3 linked regions of the Homo sapiens genome follow. The protein of the gene in region 2 interacts with the protein of the main gene of each other region in a biochemical or structural test. Each region holds a gene or a part of one and is shown on either strand. Other genes may lie near its edges.

Evidence for each region.
Region 1: the proteins of MTA1 (region 2) and ERCC6 form a complex in vitro, tested with the Homo sapiens proteins (one large-scale study listed by BioGRID).
Region 3: the proteins of MTA1 (region 2) and ZFPM1 are reported together in a solved structure, tested with the Homo sapiens proteins (one study listed by BioGRID).

What each region holds. Positions count from the first base shown.
Region 1 is NC_000010.11:49,466,052-49,469,699, reverse strand, and holds part of ERCC6 (DNA excision repair protein ERCC-6), read left to right. Parts: intron 1-3,648. UniProt on the Homo sapiens protein: Involved in repair of DNA damage following UV irradiation, acting either in the absence of ERCC6 or synergistically with ERCC6. Involved in the regulation of gene expression.
Region 2 is NC_000014.9:105,426,272-105,429,919, reverse strand, and holds part of MTA1 (metastasis-associated protein MTA1), read right to left. Parts: intron 1-3,648. UniProt on the Homo sapiens protein: Transcriptional coregulator which can act as both a transcriptional corepressor and coactivator. Acts as a component of the histone deacetylase NuRD complex which participates in the remodeling of chromatin.
Region 3 is NC_000016.10:88,451,740-88,455,487, forward strand, and holds the start of ZFPM1 (zinc finger protein ZFPM1), read left to right. Parts: upstream 1-1,540; 5' UTR 1,541-1,899; coding exon 1,900-1,939; intron 1,940-3,748. UniProt on the Homo sapiens protein: Transcription regulator that plays an essential role in erythroid and megakaryocytic cell differentiation. Essential cofactor that acts via the formation of a heterodimer with transcription factors of the GATA family GATA1, GATA2 and GATA3.

The sequences.
Region 1 (3,648 bases), on a different chromosome or scaffold from region 2:
ATAGCCCTGCTTAGTGATCCCTTAGCAGTCACTGTGTTCACAATGTGATGGCCTTGAGTTACCAAAGATTGCTGCTTATGGTACTCAGTTTAAGAAGGCAGGTTTATGTGTAGCATTTCAGAAAGACTTTTATTTAGCATGGTTAATTTTTTTGTTAATTTCATATTTTGAAGTAATTTCAAACTTAAATCAGTTGGGTCTCAAAAAAAAATCAGTTGGAATAATACGAAGAACTCTCCTATATCCTTTATCTAAGTTATTAACATTTTTCAGCTTTTGCTTTATCATTCACACACACACCCATCTATGCATACATTTTTTTTTTGGTAGGAATGCCACAGAGGTGATACCGTATCTTACTCAGTGCATCTATCAGGAGACACATGCTGGTTTGACCTATTACAAGTTGATTTTTAAGATCACTTGGTTAAGGTGGAGTCTGCCAGGTTTCTCAATGCTAAGGTTAATATTTTTACCTTTGTAATTAATTTGTGCTTTCAAGGAATATGCTTTGAGACTGTGTAAATATCCTGTTTCTCATCAAACTTTTATCCACTAGTTTTAATATCTATTGATGATTCTTTCCTCAGTCAGTTATTACTACAATGGTTGCCAAATGGTGATTAACATTCTATTGTAAGGAAGGTTTTCCTTCTCTCTTATTTATTTATTAATTTATTTTTAGATCAGTGTGGACTAATGGATTCTTTTTTTTTCCATGACTGTAATCCATTAGTAGGGGTATTATGATGCTCGTATTGTCTTAGATTTGCCTCATGGGTGGGAGCTCCTTCAAGCTGGCTCCTTTGTCCCTCTGGTATGTCCCCACCATTCTTTGAGCACCTCCTTTCTTCTTGGCATACTAATATATGCTGAGCTCAATTTGTATTCTGTGCCAGCCCTGGAATCAGCCATTTCTTCAAGGAACCCTGGAGAATGGTATTTAGGAACTAGGATCCGGGTTCTCAGAGTGTTCATTGCTGCTATTATGTCATTGCTTTCGTAGCCAATAGTATCAGGAAATAGATGTATGTATGTGTGTGTATGTGTTTGTTGTGTACATACATATACACATACATACGTGCATATATATGCACAACAAATTGCACAGATACACCTGTCTCTATGTCTGTGAAAACCATGAATTTGGCTTCCAGCAAAGGCAGATTAACATTTACCCTTCCATGTGAAACAATGAAAACAATGACAAAACATATGAAGCAATGGTTTTCAGACACCAAAGGGCAGTGATCTCTTGAGAGATGGGAAACAAATGAACTGAGCTCTCCAGTTGCCCTGCCCTACTGCCTTGAGAGAATTTTCGTGCTGTAACAGAAAGAGGGAGAACCCAGATGGGAGTCCAGGCAGACCCTCTGTTGAAAAGGCAGAGCTGAGCATCAGGGGAGGCCAGGGTGGCTGGCATTCACATGCAAGAGACGATAGCGGAGACAGCTCTGCACAGGGAGAGAACCCCACAGGTCTGCAGAGTCTCCACTGGCACTCAGCTGAATACTGACCAGCACATTGTGCAAGAAAACTACTTAAGGTCAGTGAAAAGGCCTTTCCTCTTTAACTTTTCGAATTAGAGGAAACATGTCTGGTGCTCACCCATGGCCAGGGATAGTGCCTGTTCCCACCAGCTAAGACTGGAAAAATATTTCATGGGGCATTGGGTATGATACAGAGTAGGGGGTCTTGCCTCTGTAGTAGGGAATGATCAGCCTTAGAGTGAGCACTGCTTCAGCCCTACCTGAGTGTTTACAGGAATATACAAATACCCAACATCCAACAAGATGAAATTCACAATGTCTGGAACCCAATAAAAAATTACTGGCTGGGTGTGGTGGCTCAGCCTGTAATCCCAGTGCTTTGAGAGGCTGAGGTGGGTTGATTGCTTGAGCCTAGGAGTTCAAAACCAGCCTGGGCAACATAGTGAGATCCTATCTCTACAAAAAATAAAAAAAAAAATAGCCGGGTGTGGTAGCATACACCTGTGGTCCCAGCTACTTGCGAGGCTGAGCTGGGAGGATTGCTCGAGCCTGGGAGGTTGAGGCTGTGGTGAGCTGTGATCATGCCACTGCACTCCAGCCTGGGCAGCAGAGCGAGACCCCATGTCAAAAAATAATAAAATGTATAACCCAATTTTTTAAATGGACAAATAATTTGAACAGACTTCACCAAGAAAGATATGTAGATGGCAAATAAATATATGAAACTTGTTAATATTATTAGTTATTAGGGAAATGCCAATTAGAACCATAACGAGATACCACTATACACCCTCTAGAATGGCTAAAATGAAAGAAGACTGACCATACTAAGTGTTGGTAAAGATGTGAAGCAGTTGGGTCTCATACACGCCTGGTGGGAATGTAAAATGGCACAATCACTTTGGAAAACAGTTTGGCAGTTGCATGCGCTTTCCTTGTGATATAGCTTTTTCAGTCCTGGGTGTGTATTTGCCCAAGAGAAATGGAAAAATATGTCCATACGAAGGCTTGTACATGAATATTCGTAGCAGCTTTATTAGTAATAGCCAAAAATGTAGAAATCAAATGTCTACCAACAAGTAAATAGTTAAACTAACCATGGCATATCCATATGATCAAATACTAGTCGACAGGTGGGGCTTGGCTCACGCCTGTAATCCCAGCACTTTGGGAGGCCGAGGTGGGTGAATCACCTGAGGTCAGGAGTTCGAGACCAACCTGGACAACATGGTGAAACTCCATCTCTACAAAAATACAAAAATTAGGCATGATGGTGGGTGTCTGGAATCCCAGCTACTTGGGAAGCTGAGCGGGAGAATCGCTTGAACCTGGGAAGTGGAGGTTGCAGTGAGCCGAGATCACACCATTGTACTCCTGCCTGTGCGACAGAGCAAGACTCCGTCTCAAAAAATATATATACTAATCAACAATAAAAGGAAGTAGAGTATTGATACATGCTACAGCATGGATGACTTTCGGACTAGTAAGATTAGTACATACTCTGATGCCGTTTGCATAAAATTCTAGAAAACACACAGTCATGACAGAAATTGGATTGGTTGTCTGGGCATGGGGTATTTGACGGTGGGATTACAAAGGGACATGAGTTTTGCAGGTGACGGCTATGTTCATTGTCTTGATTGTAGTGATAGTTTCATGGTATGTACATAATGTCACAACTTACCAAATACTGTACTTTAGCAGTTATTGCATATCAGTTACACTCTAATAAGCTCCAAAAAGCAAAATAAGATGAGGGAATACTGTTGTCTCCAATTTCATTTCAGCACCCTAGGGCCCTTTCCATGTTTGTAGCTTCCTTCTTCAAGACCTTCATTCACAACGTACTGAGTTACTTGTCAATCCTAGGATACATGGTAGCTTTTTACAATTTCTGACCTGAACTATGGCAAGAAACAGTTATACTAACTAGAATTCAATATTTGTTTTTATTTATACTAACTAAAGTTCAATATTTGTTTTTATTTCTTTTTGTCTTTAGTCTAAGTTTTTGGTCAAAACACTACTTGAGTCAAAAATAACTTAGTTCTTTTTTCTCACCCTTCATCATATTTTCAGTGTGTGCTATCAGTTTAAAATACAGTTAGGTTAATTTATTTGTTTGTATTCCACTTTAGGGTTTCCTCCCATCCTTGTT
Region 2 (3,648 bases):
CCAGGCATGGTGGTGTGTGCCTGTAATCCCAGCTACTCGGGAGGCTGAGGTGGGAGAATCACTTGAACCCGAGAGCTGGAGGTGGCAGTGAGCCAAGATCGCACCACTGCACTCCAGCCTGAATGACAGAGCGAGACTTGGTCACCAAAAAAAAAAAAAAAAAAAAAGGCCGGGCGCAGTGGCTCACGTCTGTAATCCCAGCACTTCGGGAGGCTGAGGCAGGTGGATCACAAGGTCAGGAGATTGAGGCCATCCTGGCTAACATGGTGAAACCCCGTCTCTACTAAAAAAATACAAAAAATTAGCCGGGCATAGTGGCGGGCACCTGTAGTCCCAGCTACTCGGGAGGCTGAGGCAAGAGAATGGCGTGAACCTGGGAGGCGGAGCTTGCAGTGAGCCGAGATCGTGCCACTGCACTCCAGCCTGGGTGACAGAGGGAGACTCTGTCTCAAAAAAAAAAAAAAAAATTAGCCGGGTGTGGTGGTGGGTGCCTGTAGTCCCAGCCACTTGGGAGGCTGAGGCAGGAGAATCGCTTGAACCCGGGAGGCGGAGGTTGCAGCGAGCCGAGATCGTGCCACCGCACTCCAGCCTGGGCGACAGAGCAAGACTTCATCTCCAAAAAACAAAAAGTGCTGCTCCAGTGAACACAAGCCTGATAAGACAGCTGAACGGCCTTAGTACTGATAGAGAGAAAGCTGAAGTGCCGGGATGGGAAATCAAAGCGGACACATTCCCCGAAGCCAGAGCCCCAGCCTGAGCGAGGCCCTAACTCCCTTCAGTTCTACGAAGGCTGAGGGAGGTGAGGAGGCTGCAGAAGAAAAATCTGAAGCTAGCAGAAGTTGGCCCATGAAGTTCAAGGAAAGAAGCCATTTCTACCACATAAAAGTGCAAGGTGAGGCTGGGCACAATGGCTCATGCCTGTAATCCCAGCATTTTGGGAGTCAAGGCAGGAGGATCACTTGAGGCCAGGGGTTTGAGACTAGTGTGGGCAACATAGTGAGACCCCATCTCTACAAAAATAAATAAAACTAGCCAGGCATGGTGGCGTATGCCTGTAGTCCTAGCTACTCGGGAGGCTGAAGTGGGGAGGATCACTTGAGCCCAAGAGACTGAGGCTACATACAGTGAGCCAAGATCATACCACTGCACTCCAGCCTGGGCAACAGAGCAAGATGTTGTCTCAAAAAAAGAAAAAAAAAAAAGAAACACTTCTTTTTGGTTTCTGTAGAAATTAACAAGCCAATTCTAAACTCTGTAAGGGAAAGCCAAGTAACCAGAACAGGCTAAACAATTTTGAAAATGAGGAACAAAGTTCAAGGATTCCTACTACTTGATTTCAAGAATTACTATAAGGCTGGGCATGGTGGCTCACTCCTGTTACCTCAGCACTATGGGAGTCCGAAGTGGGAGGATCGCTTGAGCCCAGGAGTTCGAGACCAGCCTAGACAACATAACGAAAAACTTAGCTGGGTGTGGTGGTGCACACCTGTGGTCCCGGCTGTTCAGGAGGCTGAGGTGGAAGGATCACTTGAGCCTGGGAGGTGGAGGCTGCAGTGAGTCATGGCTGTACCACTGCACTCCAACCTGGGTGACAGACTGAGACCTTATCTCAAAAAAAAAGAAAGACGCCAGACTCAAAAGCCCACATGCTGTGCAATTCCACTTCTACCACATTCTGGACAAGGCAAAACGGCAGGAACAGAAAATAGGTCAGTGTTGCTGGGAGCTGGGGGAGAAGAGGGGGCTGACTACAGAAGGTCACAAGAGAAGCATGTCAGGTGTGGAAGAGCTGCAGCGACCACACAGCTGTGCATGAGTGGAAAACCACAGGCCCCTACACATAAGTGGGTTTGCCATGTGAAACGTGTATCTCAATAAACCTAACTTTTTTTTTTTTTTTTTTTGAGAGAGTCTCACTCTGTTGCCCAGGCTGGGGTACAGTGGTGCGATCTCCACTCACTGCAACCTCTGCGTCCTGCACGCAAGTGATTCTCATGCCTCGGCCTCCCAAGTAGCTAGGATTACAGGCACGCACCACCACGCCTGGCTTTTTTTGTATTTTTAGTAGAGATGGGGTTTTGCTGTGTGGTCAGGTTGGTCTCAAACTCCTGAGCTCAAGTGATCTGCCCACCTCAGCCTCCCAAAGTGTTGGGATTACAGGTGTGAGCCACCATGCCCGGCCTAAACCTTACTTTAAGTTAAAAAAATATACACGCACCCAGAGTCAATTCTCATTGTTTGCAGTAATTACGTTCCATAAAGTCACCACTAATACTGAACACCGTACCTCTGTTCCTACAGGAAATACAGGGTCAGGTTCCTACGAGCCTCTGGTCACAACATTTTCAGCAACCAATCAATACGCAACAGCCTTATTTTACGTTTCTGTCAAAGAACTTTATAATTATTATTGTTCTCCGACACTGAACTCACGTGGGGCAGAGCCTGTCCAACACACGTTCTCTCCATGGGACCCATCCCAGCCTGCCTGTGTCCAGGGACACTCAACAGCACTGCGGCACCTCCCCCAGGGGCATCTAAAAAGCAAAATCACCAAGAGCCCCCAAATGCAAGAAGCATGGCCCTCAGTAGATGGAGAAAGGACAATTTGCTTCCAACATGGGAGCAGTGGCAGAGGGCAGGGTGCCTCGCTCACCCCAGCAGGCACCCAAGCACCACGCAACTTGGGCTTTTAGCAGCCTGTGCGTGCCCGCAAATGACTGGGAAAGTGACATAAGTGTGAATTTTGGGGTTACACGTAAGTTTTAACAAATAGGGGATGGGGCCACAGAAGAATTGGGGGAGAACAGACACAACCCCCAAGATCATTGAGCAACAAGAGCTGTGCGGCAGGGCGGTGCCCGTGGTCCCTGCCTGTCCGGGACCCTCCAGGGCACAGCCCACTCTCCTGAGCTCACCCACAGCCAGGTCTGCCATGGTCAGAGACAGGAGACCAGGGAGCACAGAGAGGAACTTTGTCTTTTCCCTTTTGGGAACAGAGTCAAGAGAAACAGCAACAGTGGTCAGGAAAGCCCCCAGCACCCCTGCTCCAGGAGCCGGGTCTCCATGTGACAACGTCCCAAATGCTGCAGGGGTGTCCTGTATTTTTATCTGCAAAACCTGGGCACTGCTGCAAGCCTCGCGCCCGGCCCATCCTTGGGGTCATCCTCCTCCGTTGCTGTCCCCACAAAGTCCAAGAAGGATCGGAGACCAGAGCCCCAGCATCCGAGGTGCATCCGGCAGTCAAGGGATGGGGACAGCGGCCCCCAGGGGATGCAGACAGACGTTCCCTCATGCAAGTGGCCAGATGGCCCAGGCACTGTGTCTCCTGGAGGAATGGGACAGAACACGCCCCTCCCTCAGAACTGCCCTAGCCCAGCCCAGAGAACGCCACACCTCAGGGCCAGCCCCCACGTGCGCTGCGCCCTTGCTGTCCTCTGAAGGCAGGGGATGAGCCAGGGCAGAATCAGGTGTGCCCCATACCTGACTCCACCGCTGACCAACTGCACAGGCCTTGAGGCTCTTTTTTTTTTTTTTTTTTTTTGTGAGACGAAGTCTCGCTCTGTCACCCAGGCTGGAGTGCAGTGGCGTGATCTCGGCTCACTGCAACATCCATGGGCTCATTTTTAAGGTATGCTTGGTACCAGG
Region 3 (3,748 bases), on a different chromosome or scaffold from region 2:
CTGTGGGAAGGCTGTGCCCACTGGACCCTGGCAGAGAGCAGGAAGGGCTGGAGGACCCGTATGCCCCTGGGCAGCTCTCTTGGCCTCCTGGTCTCAGTGTTCCTGTCTGTCCATGGCAGTGGGGAGGGACGGCGCATATCCAGTGTTGTACCCCTGCCTCTCCTACCCACCCGCCACTCTCCTGTACCAGGCTCTGAGGGTAAGCCCCCACTTCTCCCCTTCCTTGGAGCCAGGGAATAGGTCACAGAAGTTGGCACGAGATGGGGTCTTAGGAGCTCCCAGCAGGCTGGCGGGTGGTGTGACAGTCCTGCTGTGCGATGATCTCATCATCAGGTGGGAGGGGTCCTTCCTGTCTGCCCCTGGGCCCACTGACGCCCGTTTCTTATGAGTACGGGGGATGGGGGAGCAGGTAGCAAGTGTAGACCGAGAACATTAAAAGGAGATGATACAACTCAGCTGGGAGTGGGGGACAGCCCCCCAATGCGTGACCTTGAGCAAGTCCCCGAGCCTCCGTGAAGTGGGGCTCTTGAACACACCCCAGAGGGCAACAGTTCTCCATTTCCAGGCCTGAGCTGACAGCACCGCGCCCACAAACCTCGCTGACCTCTGACTGCTCCGAGAGGGGGCTGTGGCCCGGGCGCTGTGGGCAACTCCTTCGTGGGTCTCCTGCGGGGCGCCCTGGAGAGGCTCGGTGAGGAAAGAGGCCCCAAGTGGCAACGCCCAGGGCTGCCGGCTCCCGCGCCCCCTCCTCGATTTCCAGCCTGGTCTGAGCTCACAGGGGAAGACCCGAGATCCTGCTCTCAGTTGGCGGACCCCACCGCAGTCTGGGACGGAAGCCCCCTCCCTGGCCCGAATCCGCTCCACACCCCAAGTCTGGCCCAAGAGAAACGTGGGCGTCAAGGCCTCGGGCTTCCTGAGCCGGTTGTCACTGCCCCCACCGCGCACGTGGAGCGTGCGGCAGAGCCCAGGGGTCTAGGGAGGGACCAAGGGCTGGGGGCGGAGTTACAGTGCGGGGGCGGAGCCTCGGCGTCTCAGGACCCAACCAGGTCGGGTCAGGTTTGGAGGCGGAGCTGGCGCCGAGAGGCGGGGCGCAGGATGCGGTGCCGCGGGGCAGCAGAACAGAACCGAATAGGTCTCAGACTCCCAGCGCGGCCTGGGGACATGACCTCCGGGCCAAAGAGGAGTGGGGGAGGCTAGAGGTCTCCCCGGGGCGCGGGCGGGGCCGAACCAGGAAGGGGCGGGGCATCGAGCGGGGCGGGGACAGTGCCTTGAAGGCCCAGACGGACAGGGGCGGGGCCGCAGCGCTGGGGTCGGAGCCAGCGCCGTAAAGAGCGAGGCGGGCGGGGGCGCGGTCGCGGCTCTGGGGGCGGAGCCAGAGCAACGAAGAGCCGGGCTGGCGGGGGCGTGGCCGCGGCGCTGGGGGCGGAGCCGGAGAGGTGCAGGGCCCGGCAGGAGGCACGGGGCGGGGCCGGAGCGCCGGGGGCGGGGCGGGAGGTGCGGCGGCCGACGACGCTCAGGCCCGGCCCCGCCCCGTGCCTCCAGCCCGCCAGGAGCGCCCTCGCAGTGGCCGCCTGCTCCGCCGCTCGCCGCCCGCGGGTTCCATTGAGAAAAGCCGAGCGGCCGCGGCGGCGGCGGCGAGTGCGCGGGAGCGGAGGAGCCGGCACCCGCCCGTCGGGCAGTCCGCGCGCCCGCAACGCAGGACCGTGGCCTCTCGGGCCTCCGCGGCAGCTCCAGCGGCTCCGGGGCTGGGCGCGCGGGCTGGGGGCGCGGGCCGGGGCGGCCGCGGAGACCGGGGGCCGGGGGCATGAGCGGCCCCGCGGCCCCGCCGCGCCCCCGCCGCCCGCCGCCGCCCGCCCGGGGCTAGAGGCGGCCGCCGGGAGGGCGCGCGGCGCCGGAGACATGTCCAGGCGGAAACAGAGCAACCCCCGGCAGATCAAGCGTGAGTCAAACTTTGCCCGCGGTCCCCTCCGCGCGCCCGACCCCCGCCGGAGCCCAGCCGCCAGCGCCGCCCCCGCCCGTCCCCGCTCTGCCCTGGGCGCCGGCGACCTTCACCCCGCGCCGCGCCCCCCGCGCTGTGCCAAGCGCGCCGTAATCTAATCTCCGCCGGCGGCCTGGGCCCCCGCGTCTCGGCTTGGGCACCGGGGGGTTCAGCCCAGGAGGGGGCCGCCCGGAGGCCGGGAGGAGGGTGTTTGGGGGCGCGGCCCGGGCAGCTCGGCCCCTCGCGGCCTGCCCCTCCCCCGCATCTGCGAGATGGTGCGGCGATAGGGCGGCCCCGATCTGGGCTCAGATAAAGTTTAAAATATTACATTCTGCAAGTCCCGTCCTGATAAGATCGTTCTGTCGGGACGGGCTGAAATTGTGATCTTATCTCGCGCGGTTGACTCTCCCAGGCTTTGTATCTAGAAGCGAAGAGAGAGACCTGGGAGGCAGAGGGGACACCCGGGGCCGCGGAGATGCCTGGCCAAGTGGCAGGCACCGGCCCGCGCCCACCCCCACCGGTGCCGTCGCAGAGCCGCAGGACAGGGGAGGGGGTAGCGCGCAGCTGCCGCAGCCTAGGCACTTGGCTCCAGCCCCCCAGACACCCCCACCCCGTGCCCTAGCGCTGAAGTCCTGAACCCAGGCCCCGCCAGCCTGGTGACACCTCCTGGACCCTGCAAGTGTCCCAGCCAAGGCGGCATGGGCAACAAATGGTGCCCTCGGATGCCCGCGGGCACCCCCTGGCATCCCAATGGGCTGCTCTGAGTCAGAGAAGGGCCTCCCAGGACGCAGCCCCGGGCCGGGGTCGCCCCTGCACGCCACTAAGTTTCTCGCTGGTCCGGCTCCCTGCCCGGTCAGAGGCTGCTGCCCCGCCGCCACATTGCCAGTGCCCCCGCGATGAGAACTAAGCTGTCGGGGCCACTGTCTGGCCTGGGCCTCTGGGCTGTGCCAGGAGGGAGCAAGAGCACAGGAAGCTACCCTCCCCACCCTATGCCAATAATAACTTTGCGCCTCACAGTTAGGGCCCAGACGCAGGTCTTCCTCCCCGGGGCGCCTCCCCGGAGCCTGACGGGCAGGTCGTCTGAGCCCTGCCAGGAGGCCACGACGGAAACCCGCCCGCTGCCCAGCCGTAGGCGCCCGGGCACTACCTCCTTTGTCCACACGACCACTGCCACCAGGACCCCTTGTGCGGGGCCTGTGGGAGCTTCCCTACTCAGGAGGTCTCCCGAGGCGGGGGTCACAGGCATGAACCGGTTCCCGTAACCCAACTCCCTCAGCGCAAACGGGACCTGTTTTCCGAAAGTCGCCTTCTATCGTGTCAACTCAAGTATTAAAAGCCACCCACAGGTCCCGATCCGCGCTTGTGCTCTGGTTTCTTTTTCCTTCCTTCCCTGAGCGCCTATGTTCGGTTCTGGGGTGTGTGTGTGTGTGTGTGTGTGTGTGTGTGTGTGTGTGTGGTGTTTCACTGTGATGAGAAATGCAGATAGCTCGGACAGGGAGATCGCAGGTTGGAAACCGATCTCCAGCGCTGATAAGGCCGCCAGCGCCAGCGAGAGCCCGTAGCCCAGCCCAGCGGGGCGGGCAGAGCGCGCGCACTTTGGGAACTGGGACCGCGGCGGGTGCACGGTGAGCCACCGCGGCCCATCCTCGTTGCGGCCCGGGACCGGGGCAGAGAAAGGGCCCGGACGAGGAAGGCAGGGCCGCGGACCCTCCCTGTCGCTCGCGGCCCGGGGCGCCTCCTCCCCATGGCAGATCTCAGCACGTTAAGATG